Linked DNA regions of Homo sapiens: region 1 is linked to region 2. A link means that fine-mapping ties the variant in region 2 to the expression of a gene that starts in the linked region. Tissue or cell type: whole blood. Region 2 holds a variant in brackets; the other region holds the start of a gene. All regions are shown on one strand. Distances are from middle to middle.

Region 1 (8,107 bases), 130 kb after region 2:
CACTAGGCATGAGGCTAAAGCTGACCTCTAGATAGTGTAGGCTTCCTGGAAATCTCTTTGGGTCATCCTAAGTCTGTTTTTGTCAATAGTTCCAGAAAAGCAGACACAGAGTTCATGGATCATATTCATTAATATCAAGAATAGAATTCACAAAAATAACAGTCAATAAGAATTCATGAGGCATCAACCTGTTAACAGTAATAATAATGATAATCATAATAGCTCAAATAGATGGAGATTAACTTTGGGAAGCCACTGACTAAATGCATTATCTCAGTAACCCTTTAGGTTAGATACCATTGTCCTCACTATACAGGGAGGAAACTGAGGGACAGAAAGGCTAAATAACTTACCCAAGGGCCAATGACAGGAAGTGGAAGAGTAGGTTTGAAATGCTCCATGGGACTTGACTGCTGTGCTATGCTCTCTCCACTGCAGGATCTCTAATGCCTGTCATCTGCGCCATGGGCTTTAGTTCAAGTGAGTCTTCCTCCTACCTTCCGTGGTAAGTAACACCACCAAAGAGATCTGATGTTGGGGAGGTTCCCACGTACTTCTAGGTGATACAAAATAGTTATTTCCATTCCCGGAAATCCTCCTGCAAGGATTTCTGAAACCATTCTATTGTATAAAATCTGTATGTTCCCAATTTAAAAATATACAAAACACCCTTCCAAGTCATTTGAATTAACACTAGTATTAAGGAAGCTAAGTCTGCATAACCAGCCCCCTGGAAAGACAGAATGCCATCTCCTCAAGTCTAAGTGCTGTGTAATCATTACTCTACAAACCAAGTGGAGATATTACCTATTCTGCAAACAGCAAACCAAGCAAAATTCCTAGGTGCTCCCAAGGGAACAAATCATGCAGAGAAACTGCTCTCTGCTTCTCTCGAAAGCCCTCGCTGTTCCCAGGGGCCCTAAAACTCATTATCCCCCTGCGGGTGAACAGCAGACTCCAGTAGTTGTATACTTCTAGAAAGTGGAAGCAGTACATCTAAATGTTTTCAAAGTTTGCTCATGACAAGGAAGGGAAGGATGGGGACTCAAGGGCTGGGTAAGTAAAGAGTGTTATGGACCAAGAGGGTCAGCAAAGAGGGGGCGGTAGAAAATGTAAGGAGAGAGAAAATTGATAGAAACAGGTCCAGGAGCAAGTGAAAGATTTGCTCCAGTGGAATTAACATGAATATACATGGGGATGGGGGGGCAGCACTTGAATTTTAGAAACAAAAATGAAGATGAGTAGAAATGCAATTTTTTAGGTAGAAAGATATTTCTGTCCACTGGCCTCTATTTTCTCAGAAAAGGTGTGAGCGGGTTGAGGTTTGGATGAAGAAGGCTTGAGGAGGATGGAAAATGTTTAGAATCAAAAGTCAATTAGAAAGGGCTAAAAGGATTTCCAAGTAGAAGTGACTGTGGCATTAAGCTAAAATGGCATAGTTTATAGTGGACTGCTTCCAGAGCAGAGGACACGGGGTTTAGTCCATTGCCACTGAGTTGGGTCAAGCCCTTAGACAGCTGTCTTCTGACCTGACTTTCAAACTGAAACCTACCCTTCTGTGATTTATCCAGGCTTCTGTGATTTACCTACCCTCTGCTTGCAAGACAATCCAAGGTCCTCAGCATGACACACAGGCCTTTCCCTAACTGGCCCCCATTTGTGTCTCCAGCATCAGTTTTTGCCTTCTGCCATATTGAACTTAACTGTAGTTCCTCTAGAGCCTCAGTCCCTTTCAGTGCTGCTGGGCCTTAACCAAAGTATTCTCCTGAAATATTTTTCCCTTTAATGTCTGGAAAATAACATGTATTTTTTTTTTAAAGGCTGCCTCCTCTGAGAAGCCTTCCAGGGTCACCTTAGGTAAAACTGATTGTCAGTCTCTCTTTTTGCCAGCCTTACCTATGCCCTGTATGTGCTACTGACATCACAAGTCACTTCATATTTCATCTATTTTAAAATGCACTTTTATTCACATTTTTTAAAAATCCCTGAAATCAGCCAGATGTGGTGGTACAGGTTTGTAGTTGCAGCTACTGAGGAGGCTGAGGCAGGAGGATCACTTGAGCCCAGGGCTCGAGGCTGTAGTGTTATGATCGCACCTGTGAATGGCTACCACACTGCAGCCTTGGCAACACAGGCAGACCTTGTCTCAAAAAAAAAAAAAAAAAAATCCCTTAAATTAGCATGTAACTTATAATCAATGGTGTATCATAGTTCAATGACAGGATTAAAAAAAATTTTGGTGATACCAAAAAAAAGTACATCTTACATTGGAGAGCATTTGGTGAAATGCAGCTTCATTTTCTAACTTTCTAAAGTGAGTGTAGGAGTGCTTCTCATCTTGCCTCCCACCCCACCGCCCCCGCCACCTTTGGCAGTGTCTGGAGACATTTTTGGCTGTATCAACTTGCGGCGAGGAATATGCTGCTGGCATCTAACAGGTAGAGGCGAGAGATGCTGCTAAACATCCTCTAATACACAGGACAACCCCCGACAACAAAGAATTAGCCAGGTCAAAATGTGAATAGTACAGAGATTGAGAAACCCCTACGTAGAGAAACAATACCTATTTGGGTATATAATAGGCTTTATTATGTTTGATTTTAAATAAATCTTTTACAGTGTATAGTGCAACTTAATGTATAGCAACTTTTTCCAAACCTTGGCTTGTACAGAATAGCAACTCTTGAGACATATTCTAAGCTCTCCTCATCACCCCTCCCCAACTCCTTCTGCTAGATGCCCCAGGGAAATAAAATACAGCAATGCTCCTGGTCAAAATCTGAAAGCCAGAATGTCTCAGAGAGATTCGTGACCTTAAACCAATTAGGTTAGTTAATGGCAAGTCCAGGACTGAAACCCAGACCCCCAGATTTCCGCAATCTCACTCAGCCTGGGAGACAGCTGCTCCCTTCCCGGGCTAAATTGGCTAACACAGTTTGGTACCTTAAGAGGAAATGTGCCCTACCTATATGAGCTGGGTGACTTAGCAAGAGTTTAGCATTTAGTATTCACGCTTTAACACCCGGGACCCACCCAGCTCTCACCCCACTTTATGAGAATGTAGGTTGACTCTGTAAGACCCCTTAGCTCTGTGGGGAATTGGATTTATGCAAAAAATAATAGTGATTCATGAATGTGAAGGAACTTTAAATAAATGTAGATGATTTCATCATACAAAAGGCAGAAGGGACTTAGTAAGTGTATTTAAGGCTCTGGAGGAAGCGTTATTAATTTGGAAAGTGGGTGGGGGGAGCTGTCCTCTATCCCTACAAGCTGCACGTGTGGAAAGGGCCTTTCTAGCGCAGGAAGCTGATTTATGTGAGAGAGGAAGGAGTTCCAGGGGGAGGTTTTGGCAAGGCAGTCCCCACATCTCGGTTGTGCCAGCCAGGCGGGCCTCAGGTGGGTCTGGGGCTCCCTGCCCCTCCTGCTGAGTCCCCAGAGTGTCCCCCGCCCCCTTCCTTCTCCCACTGGGGCTGAATCACAGTGGGCAGCAGTGTTTGGGATCCTGCGATCCACCCATCGCCATCCCAGCAGCCCCACCCTTGGAGGATGGGAGGTTACCCTGCACGCCAGAGGGGATGGCGGGGGCCAGACTCACCTTCAGGTGAATGGGAAAGGACCGCTCCTGCTGGAGGGGCCCCAGCAGCGTCTGCTCCACGCTGACCAGCTCCGAAGTCGAGTCCACCACGCGGGCCAGCGCGCTGCGCATCGCCATCTGGGCCAGGGTGCAGGGCCCGCGGTCCCGGGGGAAGGGCAGCAACTCGGCGCCCCCCTCAGCGCCTCGCACTACCTCCTCCTCTGGGGAGTTCGCCCGCGCCGCGGTCCGCCGACTCCTGGTCCCCACGCCCCCGCCCCGCTCCTCGCGCCCGGGCCCCGGCCGGGCCCGCGGCGGGCCTGAGCGACGGGCTGGAGCGGTGGACACGTGGTCTGGGTCCCGCGGGTTCCCGGGGGCGACTGGACCGTCCCCCCAGCCCCACTCCTGCTGCAGCAGCTGCAAGGTCTGCAGAGCCACCATTTGGTGGCTGATGGAGGCCACTAAGGGCGCAGGGCTGGCCATCGCCTCCGCTGGCGGCCCGGCGCGCTCCGCGTGCAGGTGGAGCAGCAGCGAGGGAGGCGGGGGCGTTGGGGTCGCCAAGGTCACATTTTCTAACCCGCGGCTCCTCGGCCTCTGGGTCTCACAGCGTGTGTGGTCGGCCCCGCCCCCGGCTCTGAATCGGTGACCCGTGCTGGCCTCTGCCTTCGCCTGAAGTCCGAATCAGGCGTGTTCTGACCCAAAGCTGCCTGAAGCGCTGCTCGGTGTGCACTTGAAAATCAGCGAAATGCTGAGCGTTGCTTCTTCCCTCTCTCCAGGGCTTTGATGAGAAAACGTGCTGCTTTGTGCGGGCGCATCCATCGGCGGGGATACCCCGCCCCCACCTCCTTCGAAGGATGCCTGCCAATGACCACTGAGGTCTGGGAGGTGGGGGTGCAAAAGACCCACTCTAGGGCAAAAGTACGAAGGGCTCTAGAAAAACTTGCAAAAGGAAGACTGTGCCTTTCCCAACCCGAGGGGAATTTTCAGAAACTTGTTGAAGCAGCCTTCAAGGCCTTGCATCCCCCAAACAAAAGAAGGAGGAGTTGTGTATCTGGAAGTTCTGCTCTTCTCTGCTTTGCTGGGTGCCACTTGAGCACCGAGAGCCTGGTGGCTGAACTAGCATCAGCAAGCCTCAAGGCCCAGGCCTGGCACTGCCCAGAAAAGCCTAAATGTTTTTTTGTGACACTCCCAAAAGACTTAGGCAGCAAGGTTGAAGTTAATCCTTTTATGAGCCATGAACTTAGGGACAGCTGTACAAATAGTTGCTGTTTTTAATTAAACCCAACATGGCTACTTCCTTAACTTAGAAAAAAGCGACTAGCAATGTTATGCTTTGATAGATTGGAAACCATGGGTGTGTGATCACACTTAAGAAAATAGAAGATATTTGAGAGGAGTGGTATGGAAAACCAGTCCGGAGCAGCATTGTTCCTGCTTGCTTTCTGCAAGGAAAACCACTAGACAACCCAACAGCCCAGTAAAGCCAGGGCAATGGTGCATGCCCACGACAGACAGGTGGGCCCTGGCAGACCTGAGGATGGAATTGCATTACTCCTTTGGGAGCCAGACTGCACCCTTGGTGCTGTGCAGATCTGGAGAGGCTTTTGAGTGAAAAGGCCACACTGGTTAGTCTGTGAGCACAAAAGGATCATCAGAAGAGATATGGAGAGGGATGTTGGGTCCTTTAAGGTTTCCTTAACCCTGGGATAGTATGACCCCATATAATCCTCCCAACTTGCCAGCAAAGGTTCCTTCTCCTTCCCAGTGCTTTCTTCGCCTATGAAAACGAATCTGAATGCCAAGGTAAAGAAAACCTTTCTTAAACAAAAACGAGTATGTTCACACTAATTATAACTAAGTAAAAATGCACGTCTGTGCATTGACAGAGAGGAAATTACTTTGGAGGGAAGTAAATAGTTTAATGTTGATTAGATTTTTTTGCCATGAAGTTACTTAAGTTCATAATAAAAAATAGAAAGAAAAAAATTTTCTTTTTAAAAAAAGTCTTCAAATGTTGAAATATATTAGGTTCAGCAGAGACTAACCAGCAATAGCAAAAATGAACCCCTAATTTTCACAGAGCATGTCAGATCTCTAGGGCTGCCTCTCTTTCCAGATACACAGGAAATTCAGTTTCATGGGCTAACCCTTCCACTATCAAATGGCTGACTGCAAAACTTTCTTGACAGTTGGAATTGCAGCCAAGAGCAGAATTGAAATCACTAGACACAGGCTGACCTGAGGCCCCACTCTTCTACATACCACACTGAGTCAGAGCCATGAGACCAACTGAACCTCAGGGGGCATGACAGAAGGGTGCCAGAAAACCTTGGGGCCTGAGGGATGGCACATGCTGCTTAAATTGCTGCCTGCTTTTTCTAGTATTCTTAGGAAGCCCTGGATCATCTGGCAACTGAGTGTTTTGTCTGTTTTGGCTGTGGGTCGCACTGTGTTTTGCTATGATCTCAAAATGGCTTGTGTTCCAAAGCTAGAGATATGAGAGCCTAACTCAGGAAAAATTTTCATAGTCTATTTAGATGAGTCAATAGCATAGCAGATCTACCTTTGGTCTAAAACACCTCCGTAGTTACGTTTGCTGGGCTACCAGACGAAGTAACAGATAGCCTACTTCTTACCCACTGTACTCACGATTTGAGGCCATTCTGTAATAAAGGGCACATTCAAAAGGACAAAGTATTAGATATCTGATATGTTTGTTTCACAACATATATTTCACTATTTTATAGAAATCATACCCTCATTTCTCAGTAGATATGCCTTTTCCTCCACACTCTGCCCGTGAAGTCAGATGGGATGAGCCCATCTCACTGCAGAAGAGTACTGGATCATCTAGCCTAAGTCCCATCACACATCACATCCCCACAGTGCATGCATGGTCAGGAATGGGCACATGACCCAGCTAGAGCCAATGAGACAGTATCTTTTAGGATGCTTTCAGCTGAATGCACTGTAAAAGAGAAAACAACAGATGCAAAGAGTACAGGCCAAAAAAGAAGTGTAGGCCAAGAGATGAAACAGCAAAAGATCAAATTCCCTTTAAACCAGAAAACTCAACATAACATAGTTTAATCAATAAGAATAATTTATTGTCTCACATCACAAGAAGTCCAAAGGCAGAGTGGCTCCAGAGTTGGTTAATATAGCAGCTCCTCAGTGTCATCAAAGCCCTTTGTTCCTTCCTTCTTTCTGCCATGCCATTCCCAGCACATCAGCTTTGTCCTTAATTTTTGGGCTAGTTCTCCTATGGCTACTAGCAGCTGCTGGCATCATGTCTAGACAACAATAACTAGAAGAAAAGGCCATCTTTTCCTGTGTATTCCTTCTCAAGAGCAAGGAAACACTTCTCAAAAGCCTTCAGCTGGCTTCCTCTCACATCTCCTTGACCAGAATTGTGTCACATGTTCTTGCCTAATTAATCACAGTCAAGAGGAAAGAGGCTACCATGAGAGTCTAAGGTGAACTAGAATTCAGTGTAGGAGTTGGGGCTGAGCCTAGCCTCTCTCAAAGCAATTGGTGGAGGGAGGATGAAAACTACTTGATATGAAGCAAGGTTTTGTTACCAAGCATCAGCAATGGCAACAGAGAACAATGAGGATTTTGCAGGGGTTTCCAGGTAAAGAATATATCAGATTTCCAGGGCTGCTTCTCTTTATCAATACACAGCAAGTCCAGTTTCATGAGGCTGATCTTTCTACTGTCAAATATCTGACTTCAGTGACCCCTGTGCAAGTAAAGCTGAGAAGATACAAGTTCTGGAGCCTCTGCAGCCATCTTGTGAGTTTGATGGGGACAGCCCGCCTATGAATGAGCCAGCACTCATGGAGAGAAGACGTTCATGAAACAAAAGCCAACAGATGTATAGAGAGAAACCGTGGCTGTATAGCAGCATTTGAGGTCCACATTTAGCAGCACAGGAAGTCAGCCCCACCTCTGAGCTTTTCAGTTATACGAGCCGATGAAGTCTCTTTTTGCTTAAGCCTCTTTGGATTGGATTTACTGCCTACTGCAACAGAAGGAGTCACAGCTGAAGCAAATAGCCTGACATATGTTATAGGAAAGATGGCATGTTCATGGAGTGACCCTGTGACCCAGTGCCCCTTAGGCAAGGCACTGCCAGAAGGTCCCTCCAACCAACTACTTCTAGCAGTGCTTATGCCATTCACCTAACCTTTCTACAGTCTCAACAATTGTGGGAAAAGCTCTTTGGGTAACTCTGATGGGAGCATTTTTAAATGAGCACTGGAAACATTCAGCACCCTGTGGGATGGAAAAGAGAAGAGGGTAGAAAGCTCAGTGAAGTGAGAAGCAATTTTCTACCTGTTAATGGGCAAGGTAGAGTGTTGTTAGATAAATGAATATTCTGGCACTTCTGTTAATCCAAAGTTTCCTTTCCTGCATGAGCAAAAGATGCAGGTTCCTATGTGGAATCGTGGAGAAGCCGGGCACAATGAGAACCGAAGGGAGCTGGCAGAAGGTACAGTTCTGTGGAGCTGTCCTCAAAGGACTTGGCAG
Region 2 (8,107 bases):
CTTACATAGATGAGGAAATGAGCACTTGAGATCTAACTATAAAGCCAGTTAGTAGCAAGTGGTGCCACTGATTAAGCCTCCTGATATTCGGTTATGTGTCTGATCAGCTAGCTTCAGACTAAACTGAGTCTTTTGCTTAATAATTTGCCTAAGAAACGCAGATACAACACACACACACACACAAACACACACACACGACAGAGAAAAATACAACTACCATGCATCATGTACACATCCAATACTAAGGAATCCAAATCAATTCTTCTTCTTTTTTTATTATTTATTTATTTATTTTATTGTTATTATTTTTTGAGACGGAGTTTCACTCTTGTTGCCCAGGCTGGAGTGCAATGGCACAATCTCGGCTCACTGCAATCACAGCCTCCCGGGCTCAGCGATTCTCCTGTCTCAGCCTCCCGAGTATCTGGGATTATAGGTGCCCGCCACTACGCCTGGCTAATTTTTGGTATTTTTAGTAGAGATGGGGCTTCACCATGTTGGCCAGGCTGGTCTTGAACTCCTGACTTCAGGTAATCCGCCCGCCTTGGCCTCCCAAAGTGCTGGGATTACAGGCATGAGCCACCATGCCCGGCCCAATCCTTCTTCTATTGGGGTTGTTATTAAAAGAGAATAGCAGAACAGAAAGAAGTCTTAAGAGTCCAGGCTCTGGAGTGGGCTATTGGGATGCAAAATAATCTAAAGTATTCTGTGCCTCAGTTTCCTTATTTGTACAAAATGGATGATGATAATACCTCTACCATAAGGTTGTTATAAATATTTAACTGGTTGCTATATGTAAAATGCTTAGAATAAAGCCTGACACATCAGTGGAAATTCACTATTACTCTCTCCATTGGACTGAAGCTGGCAGCTTTACAATTACAGCTGTTCACATACCATAGTCCCCATTCCTGGTACAGCTACCTTCTTTGTGGCTCTTCTCTTTAGATCAAAGTAGCACCAGATAGTGCAGCAAAAGATCATGTTCATGTTAGAGAAAACTGGTTCTTTACCTCGAATAGCTTCCCATATGTTCTGTGCAAGGTTGGTGCTATAATTTTTTTAAGTACCTGCAAATTTCATTCAGAATAACCATATTTAACTTTTCTCATATAAATGTGGTGGTTGTTCTGGTATGAGATTCAGCTCCCTGTCTGTTTGGGTCCTTGGGCTTGGTTCACAGCTTCTCAACAGCTGTCTTCAAACACGCAAGAATCTACCCTGCCTAGGCCGACTCTCCCAGACGTGGCCCTAGGGTGTTTGGAGCCATGCTACCTCAGGGTATTTTCTTTTTCTTTCTTTCTTTCTTTCTTTCTTTTCTTTCTTTCTTTCTCTCTTTCTTTCTTTCTCTTTCTTTCTTCCTTCCTTTCTTCCTTCCTTCCTTTTTTTTTTTTTGACATAGGGTCTCACTCTGTTATCCACGCTGGGGTGCAATGGCATGATCATGGCTCACTGCAGCTTCGATGTCCTGGGCTCAAGCAATCCTCCCACCTGAGCGTCCTGAGTAGCTGAGACTACAGACATGCATCACCATGCCCGGTTAATTTTTTTTTTTTTTTAATTTTTGCAGAGATAAGGTCTCGCTGTGTTGCCTAGGCTGGTCTCAAACTCCTAGGCTTAAGCGATCCTCCCACCTCGGCTTCCCAAAGTGCTGGGATTACAGGCCTGAGCCACCTCACCCGGTTGTATTTTCCTTCAATCAATGACATTCAGCTTCCTGCTGTCCCCTCCAAGAGTGTGAAGGGCTGGCATCAGGTTGTTGCTGGAAATATCAAGGCAATCAGAAGGCTGGATCATTCCTGTAGCAGTATTGGCTGAGTGTCCAATGGGCTGGAGCCATTGGAGAAGCCAGTTCTGACCATTACCCAGGGTTTACATCTGACTCCATGGGCTTCACTAAAGTTGTTGGCCTGGTTTGGATAGTAAGCACTTGAGTTTATGACTTCTAGATAATTTTTCACTATAGCAGCCAGAGCTCAGGGTGAGCAAAAGGGAAAACTGTGATATATTTATGGTTTCTCTCTGGCAGTGCCTTAGGGTGGTGCATTCTGGAAGGTGCTGGAAGTTGGGCCAGTAGGAGCTGAGGGGATGTGAATAAGGCACTGATAGCATCTGCCACAGTCCCTGATGGGTCCGTTCTCATCCACTTACATCCCACTTAAGTTTAGTCTGTCTTGTCATTGATTCTTAATGGGGGTGACTGTCAATACTTTTTTAAAGGAAAATAGGCTGGGTGCAGTGGCTCATGCTTGTAATCCCAGCACTTTGGGAGGCCAAGGCGGGCGGATTGCCTGAGGTCAGGAGTTCACGATCAGCCTGGCTAACATGGTGAAACCCCATCTCTATTAAAAATACAAAAATTAGCCGGGCACGGTGGTGCACGCCTGTAGTCCCAGCTACTTCGGAGACTAAGGCAGGAGAATCACTTGAACCCAGGAGGCAGAAGTTGCAGTGAGCCAAGATCGTGCCAGAGCAAGACTCCATCTCAAAAAAAAAAAAAAAAAGGAAAATAATTACTGCAGAAAGGTTAGTGGGCCAGGGTACAGTCCCTACACAGAAGCTGGTTCCTAGGTCATAATTAATATTTATGATCCCAGACCTTAAAGTCTGAAGGATCTGAGACCTCTGAGTTCCTTCATCTCTGTCAGTCCATAGTTTCTGTAACTGCCCATTTGGTTACTACCAGGAAAGAAAACACCTAGAGAGATTCCAACAAATCCCCTTAAGAACCAGCCTCTATAATATAATAGCTACTCTATCTCTTCCTGATAAACAGGTAACTTCTTTTTTTGCCTGTTGCTCTACAGGCATGAGGAACCCAAAATAACCAGATGGCAGCTGTTGCTTTAGGGCTAATGTAGTGCTTCCTGTGTCTGCTGGCAGAAGAGCTCTCCATCTGCCAGTTAGAAACCATAATCTCTGGTCCAGCAGACCAGACTAGGGGACAAATTCCCCAAGTAGACCATGGGAAGTGATAGTGTCAGGAGCCACTCCTCCTCTTACCCCTTGTTTCCTAAACCCGTGAGTTCTTCCTGCTGGGGGCATTGTACCCTCAACAACATTGATCTAGACAATATGCCACATTTTGAATGACACCACCAAAACACTGCAAGTGGCATTCTCAGGCTGGAACCCCAGCTGTGCCTTTAAAACAGCATTCAAATTTTCTACCAGACTAGCTCTAGGGTGATATAGTATAGAGTAGGACCAGTGAATACCATCGCTGTGTGTCAATTATAGTACTTCCTTCCCTGGAAAGCAAGTCTGTTGGTCCAGGAAATGTTAGGTGGGATCCTGAAAAAGCTAAATCAGACCCTCTGTGAGTGCTCAAATATCTTTCAAATGCTAGTGGTATTACAGAAGCCAATCCATCAATATCCCATCCAAATCCATCGTGAATATTACAGTACACAG[C/G]ATAATTACCTGCCACTTATATCCCATCCAAATCTATCATCAATGCCACAGTAAGTTGGGGTTTGCCACCATACCACTTACCACCAGCAATGGGATTTGCTTATTGCTACTTGTCAAGCAAGTGATGTAGCTCCAGACTGTATCCTAAAGATCTGCTTCCTAGGATTACTTCTCGTACCAACTGTCTTAGCTTGTGTTCCACCAGAAGCAGATGCTGAGCTAAGTTTTTGCGTGTAAGTAGTTTATTGTGTAATTGACCCCAGGAAATATCAATAACAGTGTGAAGAAAGGAGACAGGGACAGCAAGGCTGTCTATAAAGGGCACATTGCCAAATAAGCTTTGGCAACTATGGGCGACTGGAGCTAAATGCACTAAGGGGAACTCTAGAAGACCAAGTAGTGCACATTCCTGACTTATCTCTTCTGAGGGGTGAGGAAGCTGGCGCATTCATTTATCAGCTCCCATTTATCATTGGTAGAGGCAACTCCTGGGGGAAGAGAGGAGGGCTATTAACTCCCCTACATTTCCAGCCTGCCACAGTGTATAGGGACTGAAAAAACTGGGTGTAGGAGAAAACTTTCAGCAAGACTCACAAGTGCTGGCACTCAGAAGTTGATCCTGTATGCCCAGATGTGGGAAAGGCTGAGGCACTGTGGGAGTGGTCTGCTATAATGTACAGGAATTATATATGAATACCAGTGAGCGATTAATATGAACCAAGGGCGGCTCTATGCGCTATATGTGTGTCTCATGTATTTCTCACATCATGAGAATAGTAATAGGGCTTACCTATTTACTATCCTCATTTTCCAGATGGAGAATCTGAGGCTCAGAGGTGTTAAACAATTTCCCCAAGGTCATTCAGCTATTCAGTGGAGGTGCTTGGATTCAAAATCAGGGACTCTTCACTTTTCCAGAATATGGAGGACTATGATGCAACTGGTAGTAAGTCACCAACAGACACTGGCTGAGTGAGATTTTCTTTAATACCGAAGGCATTAAACATCATAGAGGCAACTAAACAAAGCAGAAAACCTCATAGCGTGCTCTTGGTTGTAGGTACTGATTTGAGTGCTTATGAGGATTTACAGCTGCAAATAATAACAACTATCTGGAATTAGGCCTTTAGCAGGCATGAGAAGCTATTTTGTTCCATGTGCACAGGTTTTTTACAACCTCCACATCCTACCCTTATGCTATCTAAAATGATTCTAAGGTCTATAGCTATATATTTACCCCAGCACATTTCTGAGGATTGATTGTGAGATTGGATGAATCAGTTGTCAGTTTTCTAGGTGCACTGTCATTCAGCAGGTCTAGGCTTCAGGCATGCATGAGGTTTTTCTTGCAGAGGGGAAGAGTGAGAAAGTGAGGATAAATCTCCTGAAGCAAAGAAGCCTTAGAGAGGACACAGTAAGAACTAGAAGGGCAAATGTCTCAGAGGCCAGTTAAGTATCAGAAAATGAGGAAAGCAGGCTCAGTGCACAGTAATAGGGAGTAGTGAGGACTGTGGCAAAAAGGCCAGCACATTCCCTGTCTGAAAGTGGCAGCAGCTACTCAGCTCAGCCAAGTACAGTAGTATCCCTTTATCTACCGAGATATATTCCAAGACACTCCCCTCCCAGTGGATGCCTGAAACCATGGGTAATACAGAACTCTATATATACTATGGCTTTTTTTTCCATCTAATAACTGAGACAGCTACTAAGTGACCAATGGGCAGGTAGCATCTATGCTGAACAAAGGGGTGATTCACATCCCAGGCAACACAGAGTGGGACTCAGAGATTTCATTACCCAGAACAGTGTGCAATTTAAACCATATACATTGTTTATTTCTGGCACTTTCCACTTAATATTTTCAGACTATGGTTGATCACAGGTAGCTCAAACTGCAGAAAGTGAAACTGTGGATAAGGGGGTACTAGTTTTACCATTTGGGAATGTGGCCCATTGCTTTCAGAGAATCAGCAATTTCGTTAGTTGAAAATACAAATTTCTGTGGGTAGTTTTCTAATTTTCAAATGTTAGTAGCTAATTTACAATTATCTAAAATACTATGTGGGCTAATTTGTGAGCTTTGCCTTAATGTTTGTAAGACTAATTGTCACTGGAAATGGAATTCTGCCTGCCTGTGACCCCTGAGTGATAGAAATAGAAGCCATAAGTGGCAGTTACAGAGAAATAGGCCTTGGTCCAAAATAAGAACACATTTTCTAATAATATTATTCAAAGGCAGAGTGTTCTTCTCTAGGGCATGAGTTGCTCATTTCTATAGATGTTCAAGTATCAATTGGTTGGCATCTTTGCCAGAACTGTGTAAAGGAAGACCAGGCATCAGATAGATGGGATGTTAGACTTCACATCTCCCTTTCAAACCTGAGCTCCTTTGAATCAAAAGCACTACTTTTTCACAAAGGTTTCAATTCAAGCTGGACTGGGCATTCAGAATGAGCCTTTTGGTTTTACTTTCTGTGTCATACGTAGAACACATGTGTGTCTCTTCTGGTCTGTAAATATAGGATGGGACTGAGATGCCTTTTTCAAGGGAAAATGTTTCAAAGGCTGATTATTACTATTTTAGACTTTCTATCTCTTGGGTTTGCCTTGCCCTGAGTTGGCCTGTGTTTCTTCAAATCCACTCAGCAAGGTTCAACTTGGTTTGGCTGTGTCTCTGCTGGTATTATTTTCTATGGAAATAAATGCACACAGACTCTGATAATTTATATACATTCAGATGTAACCATAAGGAGAAACCAACACTTTACTATATATTTTTAAATTTCCATAAATCTGGGATCTGGAAATGAACAATTTTTCTTCTGAACACACAAAATTGGCAAAAATACCAAATTTGCCAATATTGGTATTTTCTGTACCCTCAAAAATATTGAGTATATCAATATAACAATGAAAATGTGAACATTTAAGCAAAAACAATTTGGCCAATTAAACCAGATATACCAATTAATTCAATGACAAAAATAAGTCAAAGAACTCAGCTTTGGCACATGGAGGCATTCAAGACACCAGCATCTGTTTTATTTTTGACAGCAGCGTCTGGTCCTTATATATTCATCTAACACTTTCAGTAGATCTTGACTTCGGTATGAAACTTGCTCACATTTTCAGATCTACAAAGGACAGATTTTAACCATTATTCTGAAAATGCTTTCCTTTCCATAAGAAAATGAAGAAAAAAGCCTGCTTTATATTAAAATGCTTATTTTAGCCATGAAGATAAGCCCTAGCCATTCTCAGATGCTGAAATACTTTGGTTTGGAAGATCTTTACTGCATGGTTCTTGGCCTGGAGCCTTATCACGCTAGAGAATCCAATCCACGTGAATGTTCTGTTTTTCAATCATTTGTTTGCAAAGTCTAATCTGGAAGGGGAATTAATATTATTAAGGACATTTTATGTGCAAGGGCTGTGCCAGGCATTTAACAAGTATTATCTTGTTTAACCCTCACAATGACCCAGTGGCGGGGGCGGGGGGCATTACTACCTATACCTACATGAGAAAGCAGGCTCTGGAGCATCAGAATCAAATCAGAGCCTGGGACTCAGGGCAGCCAGCTCCAAGGTCACACAGGATTTTTTTTTTTTTTTTCTGCGTAAGAAAAATATTGGGGAAAGGAGAAGAGAAATCCATTGTAAACTTAGGTAATCCAAAATTAAATTTCAGGGACCATTTATGAAACTATCTCTTTGAATCGTAATTCCAGTTACACATTAAATTTAACTGTAGGGAGACCTGAGTACAAACATTCATTGATTAGCCTTACAGTAAATTTGTGAGATCAAAACTTCCTAAATCCTATTGCAGATGGTACTAGCCACTGACTTTGACTTTCAGCTGTTAGACTGATCATTAGCAAACAACTTCTGGGCCAAGTGCCCACATCAGTTTTGAGGGAACTTTGGGATTTTTCTTTGCTTTGATTTGTAACAATCTATGTACGCCTTCTTTGGTAACCCTGATGAGAGCTCAAAGTAGGACTTTAAGCAGATATCCTAAGGCCAATATCCCAATTCTGCGTTTGTTTTTTTCCTTGAGGTTTAAACAGTATGTTGAATCAACATTCTATCAAGAGCTTTTTTAGTGCTTTTACCAAGAAGTTGTTAGTGAGAGCTGCATTCAGTTCAACTTTCTTTCTCGGTTCCTTTCCCTACCCTGGTTTAGTGTGTTGAAAAATCCTTTTGCATCAGCATTTATGCAGCATATAATTTTTTTACTCTCATCCAACAGGCACATTTGGATTTACTATTTCACTTGAACAGTTGGTGTTTACTGGCAGCAACAAGAACAAAATTTATAGCAGCAAATGGAAGCTGAACTCGCATGCTGGCTTTGCACTGAAGAACTTTGTGTTTGCCATTTCCTAATTGTGAAAACAATATGTCCAAGATTTTGCAGTCATCAGCATTCTGATGTAACGACTTCCATCTGGTCAAAGGAAGAAATTCAGAACCTCTATCTCCTTTTGAATTCTACTTCAGTGCAAAGGTAACTGGCTTAGGAGAATGTTGGAAGACAAGAAATTCAGACAATACATTCTGAAAAGCGACTATAACATCCACTTTTCCAGGGGATAATTTTCCTGAAGAGCAAACAGGGGTAGGGAATTTGTCACGATCTTCTTAATGGAAGCGGCTCTAATTGGAGCAAGATGACAGGATTACTTGGAGG

What was found. PIP is the estimated chance that this variant, and not a neighbour inherited with it, causes the effect.
Region 1: it holds the start of DLEU7, and the variant in region 2 is fine-mapped to the expression of DLEU7 in whole blood (TOPMed, PIP above 0.99).

Annotation. Positions count from the first base shown.
Region 1 is chr13:50,839,590-50,847,696 of GRCh38, forward strand. It overlaps DLEU7 (deleted in lymphocytic leukemia 7), which reads right to left and starts at 4,103. Exons shown (of 2, transcript NM_001306135.2): 1 at 3,599-4,103. The coding sequence starts at 4,057. It overlaps DLEU7-AS1 (DLEU7 antisense RNA 1), which reads left to right. Exons shown (of 5, transcript NR_046551.1): 4 at 439-505. RefSeq lists an enhancer at 3,033-3,959.
Region 2 is chr13:50,704,872-50,712,978 of GRCh38, forward strand. It overlaps a transcript of DLEU7 not described here. Among named protein-coding and RNA genes, the nearest start is that of DLEU7-AS1, 99 kb to the right of the region's middle. The variant C/G (reference allele first, on the strand shown) is at 3,415.